2 separate regions of the Homo sapiens genome follow, and region 2 is linked to region 1. Evidence: fine-mapped expression QTL. A gene starts in region 1. The other region holds a variant in brackets. All regions are shown on one strand. Distances are between the middles of the regions.

Region 1 (8,342 bases):
AAAGAAACAGCATATAATAGCATATAATAACAAGATAAAAACCAAAAAGGTCAAGACTAATGTAACATTTTTACTGAGAGTGCAAGAAGTGCTTCCTATCTGAGCTAGAATAGCTAGAATACCTAGAGTCCCATTTTGAACTTGGCTTGAGAAACATTAAAATAACAATTGATAAACCAGAAAGGATCCACTTGGAAGACAGGTTGCTACCCCTTCTCAGCTTGAGTGGCAAATATTCTTAACCCCTAAAAAGTAGTAACATATAGCCAAAATAGTTTGAATGGCCTGAGCAACTGCCATACTAAGCCTTGTTTAGCAAGAAAATTAATATGTTATCTAAATATTCTCTCCTAAATTCATCTTTTAAAAAATAATATCCACTCCATGATTCTATTAGTATTAAGTTCACAAACTGGCAAAACTTATCTGTGGTGACAAAACTCAGAAAACAGTTACCAACAAGGAAGTATTGAGAAGACACTACCTTCTGGAGCACTGGAAACATTCTACGGCTCAATATGGGTGATGATTACAATGTTAAAATCGACTCAACTGGACATTTATTATATGTTGTATCTCAATATAAAGGAAAATAATTTATGGATTGACAAGTTTTAAAATAGTTTTTTCTCCCAGTTAGAAGCAAAATAAACATATTAACTTATACCAATCAAAGACATATTAGGAATAAAAGTTTTAAATATATATATAAGAAACTTATTTAAATCTGTGACCAACCTGTTAATACCAGCTGCATTTACCAAGAAATTTACTCGACCTAAATGTTTCTCCAGCTCTTCAAATGTATTTTGAACATCATGTTCTTTAGCAACATCACAGCTAAATGCCAAATGATCTCCTACACAACAAAGTTAAATAAGAATTACTTATAACTCAAATTTTAAATTTACTCAATACACATTTGTTAAGCATCTATCTAAGATGGCAGGCCTGTGCTAATCTAGAACCTAAAGATTAAAAAAGTAATGTCATGAGGCCTGGCTTTCATAGAGTTGGTCTAATGAAACTGGGATGCGGGAACAAAGAGGAAATAAAGTACTACTACAGAAAGTTAATTTTAAAATTTTCTTTTTAATCAACAAAGGGGGGAGGGCTTTTTCAAGTTATAAAGGCTCTGTAAGATTCATCTAATATTTATAGCTTTAACACTGAATTCATGCTACCCAATTCGACAGTCTTCTGGGTTTTATATTCCTTTTTTGAAATTTATGTCTAATTCTGTCAGGTTTTTGTTGAATTAGTTTCTTTGGCCCTGAACGGGAACTCTTGGGTTTCTTCTTTTTAAGTGCTACGGATGCACTATGGCACATATATTATAACGACTATTATTCAAACCTGACCATCAGGAGAGATGAGACAACACAGGAAGCTATAAAAATGCTAAAACTACAAACCACGGGGGGAAAAAAACACTTTTTACTAAAAGCAACTGTTACTTACCACTTTTAAAAAATGGTTAAATGCCAAAAAAAAACTACACTTCAAAGGAAAACAAAGCATTCCCTATGTAATCTACCATTTTAATACTCTAAAATGTAGGATTGTTTTTAAAAGCTAAAACAATTCTTTATTTTCTGTCTGACCTTGATAAATATGCTTACACCAACACTACCCCATCAAGCCTTTGGAAACAGTAAGCGACCCGGGGAATTATACTTTCTAGATGAAAACCAATCACTCATGGAACACGATTCAAAGGAATGCAGGGCCCAAAAGCATCCTGTGTCTCTCTTACTCTTGGTTTTCACCCGAAGACTTGTGTCCACAACCACCTTTGAAAGCCCAACTAATGGCTTCAATCCAGTCCAGCAAACACTGATGGCTTGGGGTGACACAGTAAGGGTCACCACTCTTCCCCTCCTTTGTTAGAATGGTAAGGAATATGAGCTTCAAGAAGCATTCACTGACACTCTCCCTGACCTATAACTTACAGAATCTTTTTTCTTTTAGAGAGCCCAATAGTCTCCCAACCAGCACTGAACAGGTGATACCAAACCGATCAATAATGTTAACTTAAAAATGAACAGCCACACCTGGCGTCTATAGTCCCAGGTCCTTGGGAGACTGAGGCGAGAAGATCTCTAGAGCCAGTAAATCAGGAGTTGGGGTCCAGCACGGGCAACATAATGGGAAGCCCTCTCAAAAAAAAAAAAAAAAAACCAGATACACAAAAACAGTAAGAGCCACAAGACGCACCCCTAGGCCTCTATTCTCCCCATGCCTCCCTGATAGTAAATGAAGTATAATTTTGTCCATTCTGGTGATTAAACAAATAGCATCTTCGGATCTAACGTCCTATTTCTCCCTAAACTCAATGAAGAGTTATATTCACAAAATGACTAATCCATTCATAATAAGCCGGAAATAAAAAACCCTGAAGTTTAAATGCAATAAAAAAGAATTTGGCAGAACAAAGTTCAATTGTCCATTTGCAAAACTCACCAAAACAATTTAATAACATTAAAGCAAACCAGGTATATCTCAAAACTGGCTGGTACTCAAAAGGGTTTCTCTATCAAACACTGCTTTGTGCATTCGCGCAGGGCCAAGGCACGGCCCTTGGGCAAAACTGAAGGGAGCCGTTGGTACCTGCACTCCCACCTTTCCTGCCTGAACTCCTTTCGACCCAGCCCTGTCTCCGGGGGCCGAGAACTCGCCCTTTTCCCTACATTAAAAGTAAACTGTTACGTGGCTCTCTCCCACAACAGGGAAGCTCCTCAGCGTTAGCACTAGCCGCAGGGCGGAGGGTGCGTATAGCGGGGCCTCAAAAGACTACGAGGTCTCAAAGAACACCCCAAGTGTTCAGCCCTCGGCGGCAAGCTGCGTGGCCGGCATTCTGCGAGGCATAGGGAGATCGCGGGTTTCTGCACGAGACGCATTCTACCCTTGGAACGGGAGAGCGCCTGCACGCGGCTACATCGAGTAACCCTAGAGCCCTAAAGGCCAGACCCGCTCTTTTTACAAAGGAGATTTTCTTTAGGCGCCTGGACCGCGGCCATACAACTGGACAACTCCAGTTTGGTACCTACCGCCGAGGTCACCGGCGGCGGCTTTGGCCCCTTCCAGGTTTCTGGCAATGACCGCCAGTCGGTAGCCTTTCCGGGCCATTAACTGGGCCACAGCTCTGCCAATGCCTCGGGAGCCTCCAAAAACAGCACACACTTTGTCCATCTCGGAGTCACAAACTCGGAGGAAAGAGGGTAGGGAGTGGGAGCCCCTCTCCAGGTTCCCTCAGGCTTTTAAACAACCGCGGTTCCAAAAAAAAAAAAAAGAAAAAAAAAGGCAAACCGCAAAAAAAAATAACGCCGCTCGACACCTCCTGCAGCCGCACAATAGTAATGCAAGACGCCGTGAAAAGGAGGAAGAGCTCGACGTCGCCGCGTCGACGTCATCACGCACGGACTCTTCCGCGCCACACCTAACAAATACGCCGACGAGAGCTCCCCGCCGGCGGAAGAATGGCCTGGAGAGGGCCTCGATGCTTGCTGGGACCTGTAGTCTTGACGCATGAGAGCAACTGGCGCAGGCGCGCTGCTCGGTGGGGAATGTACTTGTGGCACTGAGGGGGATCCTCTGTCCCCGCTGGGTCATATCAGTCGGGATTCGAGCCCCGGTGACCAATCGACCCGGTTTGTTCGGAACTGACAGGGTTGTCAAGACGCTGGGCTTTCCCTGGCAAACCAAGACGACCTGATCACGTAGTTAGAACCCAGAGAAAGCATTACTGGGCGTGAGCCGGTCGGGGCTCCGGTATTTGCCCTTCGCCCAGGTGTTGTTTTGGCTACAGACTTGATGTCCTACCTGTTGAAGAAGTCCCCAAGAATCGCACCCACACCAAAACCTACCCTACCTGTTCCTCCCCCAGGTTGCTGTAGAAATGGACCTCTACCCGCCCAGATGTTACCATTCATCGCGAAGGGTGTCGTGAAGATGAATGCCCTGTCGAACATCATCCAGCAGGAGGTCAAGGAATTTTAACTGAATGATTGAATAGTCTTGCAAGATCTATGAAACAAGCTTCGGCTGCTGTAGAGAAACAAAAATGGGTTCCTGCAATTCTAAATAAGATGTACTGGGTGCTCTGAGAGTTAATAAGCTAAAAAATTCAATGTTTGTTACAATTATAGTGTAAACAGAAAGCATTTCTGATACAATATTATTTTACTAGATTCAGAAAAGTATGAGCCATGGTCCCTACCACTAAAAAAACTACAACCCAGAACTACAGGACTAATACACATGAAACACTAGGAGGTATCCAAAATCATACTTAGTAAAATGCAAAATTATATTAACACAAGAGCTCCGAGAAAATGGAGATCAGTGAAGAATGAAGGGGTGCATGGAAAAGCTGGATTTGAGGGCTGGATGAGGTTTGAAAAAAGGAAAACAAGAGCAAAAAGTCTATAAATAAGCAAGTTGAGCATTAATTTAAATTTGTTATTCCTATTCCATTTAGATCCAAAAAAAGATTTGAAATGGTTTGCAAAAATACATGAGTATTTGAATTTAAAAGGCAAAGAGGACCACTGCCCCTTCTCCCACAAGGCCAGAACAATAAATTAGGTCAGTGGAAAAAATACGAATAAAGTCATGCTATAAGAATCTATTTAGTATTAAAGAAGAGATTCATAAACTTAGAGTTTCCTGCCAGCGAAAGCAACAAAGGAAATATAATTACAAGTGGTAATTTCTGTAAGAAATCAGCCTCCTGGTTATGCAGCAGAGAAGCCTGAGCAAAACTCCCTCCTCATAGGTCCTCCTAAATGGCACACTAAGCATTGTAGTAGACAGTGAGCTTCATGAAAAGAAAAAGAGATTGTAAGGCTGTTTTCATAGCATCTATTAGACTTTATTAAAAGCAAATACAATAGGAAGTTAAACAATATAAGCAAACAGTCACACATAAAAATTGTGTCTTTGAAACAATATATGTTTGAAACAATGAGGAAACAAGCCTGAGGAAATTTGGGATGGTGCTATATTATAGTCAGCTTTAAAGTCAGGTGCCAAGCATTAAACAGGCCTTTAACTGCAGAAGTAATAAGATAAGAGCTGCATTTAAGAACTATTAGCAGGCCAGGCGTGGTGGCTCATGCCTGTAATCCCAGCACTTTGGGAGGCTGAGACAGGAGGATTGCTTGAGTCTAGAAGTTCAAAACCAACCCAGGAAACACAGCAAGACCCCCACCCCCCCGACCCCCATCTCTACAGAAAATACAAAAAAAAATTAGCTGGACATGGTGGCCTACCTGTGGTCCCAGCTACTCGGGAGGCTGAGTTGGGAGGATCATGTAAGTCCAGGAGGTCAAGGCTGCAGTGAGCCATGATTGCACCACTGCAGTCCAGCCTGCATGACACAGCAGGACCCTGTCTCAAAATAACAGTGTTCTAAAAAACAAACAAACAGTTTCCCAGTGATGTAAAAATGGGTCAGATCAAATTTGTCTATTCACTTTCCTACTATACACTATGCAATCTTGGAAAGAAAAAACTGTTTTACATAAATTACCAATATAAGGGTCAGCCTAAATGCCAACTGTATTCCTGCACCTTAGGTCAAACCAGAGAGGTTTATCTTTTGAACAGTTCTCTCCATTTGCTAGGAAAATGATTATTTTTTTTTCTACACATTGTTATTTTAGCAAAAAAAAATGGTTTTTAGATCTATGCCATCTATCATGAAGATCACTAACACATGATATGAGGTGACATTCAGAATTCTGAAAACCTTCCAACTTTTCTCACTGTATATATACTGTAAATGGATAAGCTGGGCTTTTTATTCAACACATACCTCAGGTTAAACCTCAAGGTTATTATTTATTTTTTTTCCCTCTTAATACAATATCACCACTATCCCGGGTGAGAATACATCTATCACAGCACATCACCCATTAGCTGAGAAGGTTACAGCAGGGGAAGTTTCTCTGTAAGCCCCTGATAGTGAAGTGAGGATCTGTAAATTAAACTGGGTCTCCCCTACCCAGCAGGACATTGAAGGAAGCCATTAGAATGACCCACCTTTAGTCTTTCCTTCTCACTAAACATGCCACTTTTGTGGTAATATTTTAACCATATGTTATACTTTAACTTAAATCCACATAGGATATATTTTCTCTTGGCTCCCACAATCGAAGGAGAAAATTCCTTATGTATAAGGACTGTTATACAAATTTTTAAATATGCATACCTAGTATTACTTTTCTGATTACAAAAGGAATACCATTTAATTGCTAACAGTTAGAAAACATAAACTTTTTAAAGTAAATAAAAACTCATTGAAAGCATTGTACACTTTAAGCGTGTGAATTGTATCGTATGCAAATTATATCCCAATGGAACTGTTATTGAAAAAGATGTAATTTAAAGCCTACTGCCCTGTTATACGAAATTTGAATCTGCAACTAATTATAAGGGGGTTGTACCTTTCATGAATATTTTTTTCATACGTCAAGATTTATAATGCCCAAGATTCCAAATATGCAGGAAAATTTATTTATAAGAAATTTATGAATTATGATTGAATATTCATTGAGAATCCTCTTTACAAATGCACCATACTAAGCACATCCAGCTTATCAGATCCATAATTGAAGCATAACCCTTCCTGCCAGCAAGCAGTCTCCCAGGATTCTTCAGGCAGTGATGATAATCTGCACGACCCAAATTGCATGTGGCCAGCTAACTTCTCCATACAGACCATGCTCTTCTTTCAAGAAGAAAGATTAGAAAGCTGCCTTAGTGTGGCTGCACAGATATAACTTTTATGATTAAAAAGCATGTTGATTTCCTCATTGGCATTCTTGTATCCAATCTGCTGGGTAATCTAAATTGTAAGGAATGTACTTTTTATCACTTACAAAAGTTTATTTCATTTTGATTGGGAACAAAAAATGTGGCCCATGAGCTTGTTATTTTGTTGAATTGGCGTTTATGCCTCTGAGGCTGCCCACCGAGACCTAAACCTGGCACTCAGTTGCCTAAGGCAGAAGCATGGAGTTTATTCCTTCCCTCTCTCAACATCCCACATCCAATCAGTCACAAAGTCCTGCTGATTCTACTCCCTAAATACCATTCCAACTTCTACACATCCATGCTTCTCCAAACACTGTCTTCTCAACCTCGAATGCTCCCACTGCTTTCCCTGGTAACATCTGATTTATCATTCAAAATGTGGCTCAAACATCTCTTGCAATGGAAGCTTCTCCTGACCCAAAGGAGGACATGCTGATGTCCTTCTTTACCCGTCCTCTTACCTTGTATGTGTCTTCAAGTCTGTATTTCATGGAGTTACTGTGACGTCAGAATCCACATAATTTTAGGAAGATAGTGAATAGATTCTCAAGGATCTGTGAACCTACCAAGCTGAATACAAAATCTCATGTGCTTTTTAGATGAGTAGCTTCTTGAAAGAGGGTCCACTTCCTTCACTGGGTTCTCAAGGGGAACTTTCACCTAAAATGGTTAAGTGCCAGGTGTAGTGGCTCACGCCTGTAATCCCAGCATTTTGGGAGATGGAGGCGGCAGGATCACTTGAGCCCAGGCATTTGAGACCAGCCTGGGCAACATGGTGAGACCTCATCTTTTTTAAAAAAACATAAAAAATAAAATAAAATGGTTAAAAACTTTCTGTTTTTAATTGCCAACTCTTTGAATCCAGAAATGATCACATTGGTTTTTGTTTCCCTGTTTGTAGCACAGTTCCTAGGGCTTGTGAATGCTAAATAAATGAGTTAACAAATGAATCAATGAGTGAATGAAATAACTCACTTAAAAGGAATTTATTGCTATAAGCAAGAACCAGTGTCGATACAGCTATGATTAAGATAGACCTGGTGCCTGTTTTCGTTGGGAAAATAATCTGGCAAGGAAGACAGACATTAAACAATTAATCATGCCATCACTATTTAATTCCAATGGTGGGAAGAACTATAAAGGAGAAGTACAGGCTGCTAGGAGGGATCATAACTAGGGGCATTGATCCAATATGGAGGCCTGGGGTCAGAGAAGGCTTCTTCTTTCAGGACATAATGTTCTATAAAGTAAATGAATAATAACAAAGAAAGATTGCAAAGAATGATAACTACAGCTACTATCCATTCATTATGTTACAAAGCCAACTAGGTGATAACATAATTTATACATGAAGAATAAAATTCTGAATTAAAAATTCACCCTTAATAATGAAAGAGATTGTTAGTCAAAGTAGAGTTAGTATTACGCCTAGATGAGATCACAGGTTGGACATTTCACCAGGAAGTACCATGGGAGAGCATAATGCCTGAAATTTTATGAAACTCTTTTTTTTTTCCCAGCCA
Region 2 (8,342 bases), 130 kb before region 1:
CCTCGCCCCCCTTCCCGCCGCCGCCCGCCTTCCCCGAGCTCGCGGCCTGCACGCCGCCCGCGTCCCCGGAGCCCATGAGCGCGCTGGCCTCCCGCTCCGCCCCCGCCATGCAGTCCTCCGGCTCCTTCAACTACGCGCGCCCCAAGCAGTTCATCGCCGCGCAGAACCTCGGGCCCGCGTCGGGCCACGGCACGCCGGCCTCCAGCCCCAGCTCGTCCAGCCTCCCGTCGCCCATGTCCCCGACGCCGAGGCAGTTCGGCCGCGCCCCCGTGCCGCCCTTCGCGCAGCCCTTCGGCGCTGAGCCCGAGGCCCCGTGGGGCTCCTCCTCGCCGTCGCCCCCGCCCCCGCCACCCCCGGTCTTCAGCCCCACGGCTGCCTTCCCGGTGCCCGACGTGTTCCCACTGCCGCCGCCACCACCGCCGCTCCCGAGCCCGGGACAGGCGTCCCACTGCTCGTCGCCTGCCACCCGCTTCGGCCACAGCCAGACGCCCGCGGCCTTCCTCAGCGCTCTGCTGCCCTCGCAGCCGCCGCCGGCGGCCGTCAACGCCCTGGGGCTGCCCAAGGGTGTCACCCCCGCGTGAGTAACCGCCGCGGTCCTCCACTTCCCTGCCCCTCCGCCTCGGGTCGCCCTGGGACTCCCACATCTCCATACACGCGCTCCCATCAGCCTGCAACCCAGAGCGCCCCAGTAACATTTCACACATTTCTCTCCGTGCGATGTAAAAATTCTTAACGGCAATTTGACTCAGTGATTCTTGCGTAGCCACTTAACATTATCAAAATCAGAACTTTTTCCTCTGAATTAATATGAGATTCTCATCAGGAACTATTCAAAATCTATGCAGTGCCCTCTCTTAATCATTATGGGGGGGGGGGTGCTTAGCTATCATTTATTGAGCACTGTGCTAAGCAACTCACATGTATTATTTCATTTGATACAACATTCCTAAGAGGTAGCATTGCCCCAGTTAAAGTACTGAGGAGTCTAGGAGTTAAATAAATTGCCCAGGGTCACATAGCCACTAAACCGAGACACGAATCCATGCTCTCACCACCAAACTATGTGTTTTATTATAATATTTCATGCCAGCATTACAATGGATGTGAAGGAGTTTGGTTATTAAGTATATACTTAGTGTTTTTGAAAAACCTTAATTAACAGATTTAAGAAATAAGCCTTTGTGTAAATCTAGTGATTGACTGGAAGGGGGCAAAAGCATGTAAATGTCTTTATGTTTTGATGTAGATAAATGAGGGTGTATGCAACCTAGTGGAGAAATTATGATGCCAGTTTTGTCCCTGGCCTGTGACCTCGAGATACATTACATGCCTCCTCTATCTCTTTCTGTTTGCAGGTGATCTAATATGTCTCTCTTTACATCACAGTGATGATGTGGCAGCCCTATGAGGTCTTTAAAATGGAAAATCTTTGAGGATAAATAACACCTACAGAAGTACAGTAAAATCCTCAAAAAAATACAGTACAGGTGTTAGGCATGTTTGGTTGAAGAGTAAAATGAGTAAATGCTAGTACTTACTCATTTTACTGAAGATTTCAAAAATGAGGAAGTGCTCACAAAGGTTAAGCCAGCACCCATATCTCAACTCTTCCTTCTGAAATCCTACTTCAGAGTTTGCCAGAAGCATACTATTGTTCAGAGAGAAAAAGAAGGAACTCTACTAAACAGTAAAAAGGAGAAGATCTTAGAATTCAAGTTATTTTCATTCATCTATAAAAGTGTTCCATTGCTAGGATACACTAATGCCACCTTAAAGGCAAGCATTGCTATGTCGGGCCTCGACAAAGGTGTACCAGGCAGCTTCAGTTAGCAATGCTTCTTTTGTTGGGCACTTCCTAAATGTTGATTACATTAATTTGAAATGTGGCTTCTTCTCAAATCCTTATTGGGTGAAACACAGTCCAATGAATATATAAAGAAACAAGTCCAAAAAAGGAGCCAAATATAGTAATGATGTGATAATGGACTTCTGTTGAAAGTTGTCAGTCAACTTGTCTGAGGAGAACCTTTGTCCTTCTCCCTTGTTTTTTCTCTTTGAGCTTTTATTTAGCTGTTAGAAAAGGAAGTGTATTATCTTGGTACAAAGAAGCTGTTAGAGAGACCCAAAGAGCCAGAGTTTGTTGCATGACACTTTTTCATCCTCTCTCATTAAAAGGGTACCAAGTCTTGCTTCCCAGGAAGAGGAGTACTGTGTAAATAATCTGTTCTAATATTTCTCTTATAGAATTTGATCAAAGATTCGTTTTTCAAAGGTGGTGATGATTGTGCCATTTATCATTTGTAGTAGAAACAGCAGTTTGTGCTGATCAGTGACTTTGAAACCTTCTTAAGATAAGCAAGTTTTAATGGCTTACCTCAAGTAACAGGAGCACTTGCTTCTTGTCAGCATCTATCACAGTGACTCATTTTATGGAGTCAAAATAGCTTATAATTGTTACCACAAGAGTCCAGTCGTTCCTGCCATTTCTTAAAAATTAATGGAGAAGTCGTGCCGATTTTGTGGCCATGGAAAACTGTACCCAAAGATAGTGAAGTGCTGTGACATCAAAGTGGCAATACCAGACTACAGATTTTTAGCTCCATGCCTGCTCAGTAAGCCATTATTATGTGGTTACCGTTTTGTCCTCAAGGAATTTTCCTGTTGCTAAATCACGCATACTTGAAGAATTCATTATTTTGGTTTGATAAATGTGTCTTTTGAAACATGTTTTTCCTCTGGCATACTATGGGATCTGTCATTTGCATTCTGAATTAAAAACAAAAATGTTACTATTTTTGTTTACCATAATAATCCAAATAATTTGCCAAAGATTGAGTGTCCCTATCAGGGCTGCCATGACTTTGGCATCCTGGAACTTGCAGGAACTGCCAAGTTATCATAAGATGTATATATTCAGTTTCACTTATAAGTGTTATTTCTTTAGCTGGATAGTTTTGCCATATATATCAAGTACCAACAAATTGGTTGATTATATGTAACACAATGAAGTAGAAATTCATTAGGTTTTTTTCACTTGCCTTGTTTTACCAAAATCTTAAATGTAAATTTCCAATATCTTAGTTTTCTTTTCTTTTCTTTTCTTTTTTTCTGAGACAGTCTTGTTCTGTTGTCCAGGCTGGAATGCAGTGGTGCAATTGCAGCTCACTGCCACCTCCGCCTCTGGGTTCCAACAATTCATGCCTCAGCCACCTAAATAGCTGGGATTACAGGTGTGGGCCATCACGTCCGTCTAGTTTTTGTATTTTTAGTAGAGATGGGGTTTCACCATGATGGCCAGGCTGGTTTCAAACTTCTGACCTCAGGTGATCCGCCTGCCTTGGCCTCTCAAAGTGCTGGGATTACAGGCCTGAGCCACTGTGTCCAGTCTCTCTTAGTTTGCTTAATCATACTTGTATACTTGCTGTTTTATTCTGTTTGTTTCACACTGTTCTTATTTTCATCTGTAGACAGGAAGGTTAGTAAGTACTAAGTTTCTAAACAGTCTGTGGAGATAAGGTTCTGTTTTTCATATGTTTGGGTAGCAGAGGTCAAAGCAGGGAACAAAGGTCATGGATGTCAGTGATAAACCACAAAGCCGAGGCAAAAGACAGTAAATCTGGGGAAGAAAGGCATTTGAGGAACTGTATGTATAGAAGTTCCCCAGACCGCAGTCAACCAACTGCATGCTGTTCTGTGAGCCGGAGAGAGGTTGACTGCGGTCTGGGGAACTTCTATACATACAGTTCCTCAAATGCCTTTCTTCCTTTATGCTACATCTTCCCCAAATTTACTGGGGTCACTGGCAAAATATTGCCCTGCACAAAGCTGTCAACAGATACAAATATTAAGTTGACAAACTCTTTTAGATGGAGGCAGTAAGGAGAGCATGCCTTAGAGAGAAATCTGTTTGCACTTTTATAAAATTAATGTATTCTATTCCCCTCACTATTGCTGGTAAGTTGGTGTTACAGCCTCCATTGCTGTAACCATGTTTCTCCACATAGTAAATCAGCCCTAAGACACAGAAGAAACCCAGAAGATTTGGCAGTGCCGACAGGCATAGTGTGGCAGTTCTGCTCTGCTGGTCTCTGAGTGGCCATACTAAGTCTGAAGGGTGAATCAGATCAGACCCATCCCTGGAACCAGACTGGCACTGTTTCTTTTGCCATCTTCACATTCTTGGAATCTGTGCTCATAAGGGAGTGCCACATAGCCACAGTGCCACAATGTTGTATGCTCTTAACTACCTCTTTTATATAAGCAGGGCTTTGGTTTGAAATGTTGCCCCATGTTTGTCACAAAGAAGAGCATGTGTCAATAAGAGCTTTTATACAGATGTATTAATGACAGCTTTTATTATATAGGCCCACAGCTCCTTATGGACATTATCTCATTGTCGCTCTCTTTCTCCCT[C/G]ATAGGAAACGGGTAGGTGGGGACACTATCATCGTTACTCAAGAGGTGACGGGATTTCCCAGGGTTCTGGAAGAAATGCCTGAGCAAGGAGAGCATAGCGTGACTTAGGTTCATCTCAAATAACTCTAATGTCTAACATTTCTTGATTAAAGAAAGCTGTTGTAGAAGCAGCAAATCAGAATCCCCGAGTCAAGGAAAACTTTGTAACAAATTTAACTGTACTTTAAGATTCATGACACAGGGCATTTTCACCAGTTTTCAAGTCAAGACTGTGGTTAGATAGTAACCAGTGAAAAAGAATCCAACAGATACAAGCCGCAATGTACTTTGCAGACATCTCATCTACCTATCTTTCTCCTATTTTTCAGGAAACAGATAGTGGGGGGCTTTTCATTCTCTGACCTGAAGGGGTTGGAGGTGTTATTACTGGGCTCATTAGGGTCCAGTATCTTATCAAGTTGTATCCAATCCTGGACAAGTATTTACCAACAAATTAGTAGGCAAGGCCTCCAGGATCTGCTGCGACTGGGTTATTCTGTTGAAATGTCTCTGCCCCTGGGGCAGCTCAAAATCAGACCTGTACGGCTGTGTACCAAGTTGTACAGAATGAATGAACAGAAGTAACCCGAAGCCAGTGGATCACGAGGTCAGGAGATCGAGATCATCCTGGCCAACATGGTGAAACACCATCTCTACTAAAATACAAAAAATTAGCCGGGCATGGTGGTGTGCACCTGTAGTCCCAGCTACTTGGGAGGGCTGAGGCAGGGGAATCGCTTGAACACAGTGGGTGAGGTTGCAGTGAGCTGAGATTGCGCCATTGCATTCCAGCCTGGTGACAGAGCAAAACTCTGTCTCAAAAAAAAAAAAAAAAGTAACCCACGTGCCTTTGTCATTTTCTTTTTTAAAGAACCCAAAATATAATATGAGGAGAATTTGATATTACAATAAAGTTATCTATTTTCCTTTAAATATGAGCTTAAGTTACCCATTTTTTGTACTTTAACAGCCTTTGCTTTACCGTAAAATTCAGTAAAAGGAAAACAGAATTGATATACAAAAGCTCAGTTTGTATATCTTGGGCTCTTTTATATATTAATACATTACATTCTTGAATATAAGTGATATTTAAATGCCAACATGTTAATGAGTTTGCTCACTCTGAAATTTTGTGGAATTTAGTTACCATCAGATTTCACTGAATGTGAGAAGAGTAGAATAAGAGGACTTGTAATAGTTAAATTCTCTGGTTGATTCTGGTACCTTATCTCTTTAATCAATATTGTGCTCTGGAAATTTGAGTTTCTGAAATCTGCTCACAGAATTGACCTGCAATAGCATATCAAGGGAAGGATGCTTTCAAGATTATTCAGTAGCCAAAAAAAGAGACCTCTTGGGATTTGGTGGTGATTGAATCTGGAAAATTTTACCTTCCAGATGCTTGTGTATATGTTTGAGATGTTTTTATCCCAACCACATGAATATTGTTTTTAAATGACAAATGACTTACTGTTAAAGCCAGAGTAAACAGATCAGTAATGTTTTTTGTACAGTTGGGCTGAGTGTGTATACAATGAAGTATTTAGTGCAGGAGGCCTGTTACAAATTGTTTATTGGTTAAGGTTTGCCTCTGAGTATGGATTTTTGTGAAGAGTTCTGGTTTTGGTAACTACTAACTTTGAATACTATTTTATTTTTTTTTAATTGTGCAAACCATCAAAAAAAAAAAGGAGATCATGTCTTTGTCACCACTCTTTTTATTTCCTAATGAGTTGCTACTCTTCATTTATCAAAAGAAGGTGCCACTTCAGGGAGCAGAACTACAACCATCTTACATTAAACTCTAACATAGCATTAGTTTTATAGGAAAACAAACTCAGTTGCCAAATTTTTGCCTCAAAACTTATAACTGCTTTTCTTTCCTCATGCCTCCCCTTTCAAAATACTCCACTTTTATTTCTAACTCTCACCTTGCATGCTACCCCTAAACCCTGTCCTCAACTTTTAATTTCGTAAAGTGTTTCTGAATTACGTTAGTCCAGTGAGATGCTCTGAAAAAGAGAAGAGGTTCCATATTAGAATAAGTGTGAGAAAACTGTATTCCATACCTCTTTCCTCAGGGTTCACAGTGCCCATCCGTTGGCCCTGCCAGGCTGGTTCTGGTCACAGGACCTCTGCACTGCCAAGCTCTCCCTGTAGGTCTCACATAGCCAGCCACTTCCTATGGTTTAGGCCACCACTGTAGAGTCACCTCCTCAGAAGTCTGATGGACCACACTGTCTGATACAGTCATCTGCTCATACTTCTGTCCTTTCATTGCGTTTACCACCTCCTGATATGTCTTGCCTTCCATTCTTTTCTCTTATCTCTTTCTGCCATATCCACCATAAAAATACAATTTTTCTAACTATTGTGACCTAGTTCAACATTGTATTTCTAGCACCTAGAACAGAGTTGAACACTGAGAAGGCAATCAGTAAGGGTTATTTGCACATTCTTGTAAATTCTGGTCAAGAATTCTTGGCATCTTTTTAAACTCCTTCCCCTCTTCCATTCTGTTTATCTCAGCCAATCTTGTCTCTGTGACTTACTTCCATGCTGAATATTTTCTGTTTGCCACTTCAGATCCACTCTTACTACACCAGGCGCTGTTCTAAGTGTTTAGTACACATTAGTTCATGTAGTTTACCCAGTGATCGCATCAGATACGAGCTGTTAATACCCACATTTTACAAAGGAGGAAACTGAGACATATGGTCATTAGGTCACTAGCCCAAACCACACAGCTTTTAAGTGGTTAAAACAAAACAAACAAACAAAAAAACAGGTTATCACGTCTGTTTCTTTATTCACGCTGACTCTGAATTTCTTCTTCTTCTCCACTCTACTTGTCTACATCCTTGTCATCTTTCAAGGGCTTATAACTTGCCTCTTTCATGGAGTCTTCTGCAGTCATTCTAGCCAGCACTGTTTTCTGTTTCTTTTTTATTCCCATTGCATCTAGAATTGGTACCACATGGTTTGCTCCTTAACTTATTCCCCAACTTGGTTATTAGCCTTTGTGATCAAGGACCATCCTTTAGGATGTGGGGGGGTCTTTGCCATCTCACTTAAATAATGTTGAGTGCTTGCTTTGGCAGTGTGAATACTAAAATTGCAATGATACAGAGAAGATTAGCATGGCCTCTGTGCAAGGATGACACACAAAGTCATGAAGTACTCTGTATTTTTAAACCATATAGCCTCTATGAAACTGCCATTTTTGTAAGTTAAAAATGTTCAAATATTAATCGTTGTAAATAATTGCCCACTGGAATGTTTTCTTATTCCCCCTCAAGTTTCAATTTCAAGCACTGACTGCTAAGATTGGCATGTCTCCAGCCACGTACATTTGCAAAAAGTCAGATTTGCAATGTAATATGTCATGGAGCTCATGCTTGTTGAAGAGAATCTTTGATAGGCTGGACACATTCATTTTAGTAGGAGGCAGAGGTGGCCTAACAGCAAACTCTAGGTTCAGGATCTAATTTTCATAGCCTTCAAGGATGAATGCAATATAAACTGTGTAGTAGATTGTGATGCTCATTCCAACTAGGGAGGCAAGCATTTGTACCTGCTATCTACAAGGCACCAAATAATGCATGTGTCACCATTGCTATAAATTGTCCTCTTCCAGGACCTAACTATTTGGGTAAAGAACCTACAGTTCCCATCACCACCTATGTATGTATGTACAAACATAAATTAGTCCAAATTCTAATTTTCTCTTATTTTTCTTTGTGGAAAAACAGATAAGAAAGCTCAGTAAAGGAAGATATAAGCAATTAATGTTACAGTTCTTCAATATAATAATTTGAATTAAATGTACTAAGAAGCAAAAACTATTAGTGTTGAGACTATCATGATGAAGCTTTTGGTTTTTTTAATAT

Direction of the effects. Alleles are on the strand shown, and positions count from the first base shown. SD is a standard deviation of normalised expression in the study named.
As copies of C replace G in region 2, the expression in nucleus accumbens of the gene that starts at base 3,358 in region 1 goes up (small effect, 0.34 SD a copy in GTEx).

What was found. PIP is the estimated chance that this variant, and not a neighbour inherited with it, causes the effect.
Region 2: its variant is the best candidate, but not a certain one, in a credible set for the expression of CBR4 in nucleus accumbens (GTEx, PIP 0.69).

Annotation. Positions count from the first base shown.
Region 1 is chr4:169,006,898-169,015,239 of GRCh38, forward strand. CBR4 (carbonyl reductase 4) reads right to left here and starts at 3,358. Exons shown (of 5, transcript NM_032783.5): 1 at 3,051-3,358; 2 at 739-859. The coding sequence starts at 3,192. CBR4-DT (CBR4 divergent transcript) reads left to right here and starts at 3,532. Exons shown (of 2, transcript NR_185919.1): 1 at 3,532-3,559; 2 at 3,887-4,163. RefSeq lists enhancers at 2,359-3,308, 3,408-3,737.
Region 2 is chr4:168,877,818-168,886,159 of GRCh38, forward strand. The region is part of intron 10 of PALLD (palladin, cytoskeletal associated protein); the gene reads left to right. It also overlaps the pseudogene RNU6-853P. Among named protein-coding and RNA genes, the nearest start is that of CBR4, 130 kb to the right of the region's middle. RefSeq lists enhancers at 1-406, 3,370-3,619 and a silencer at 88-327. The variant C/G (reference allele first, on the strand shown) is at 4,414.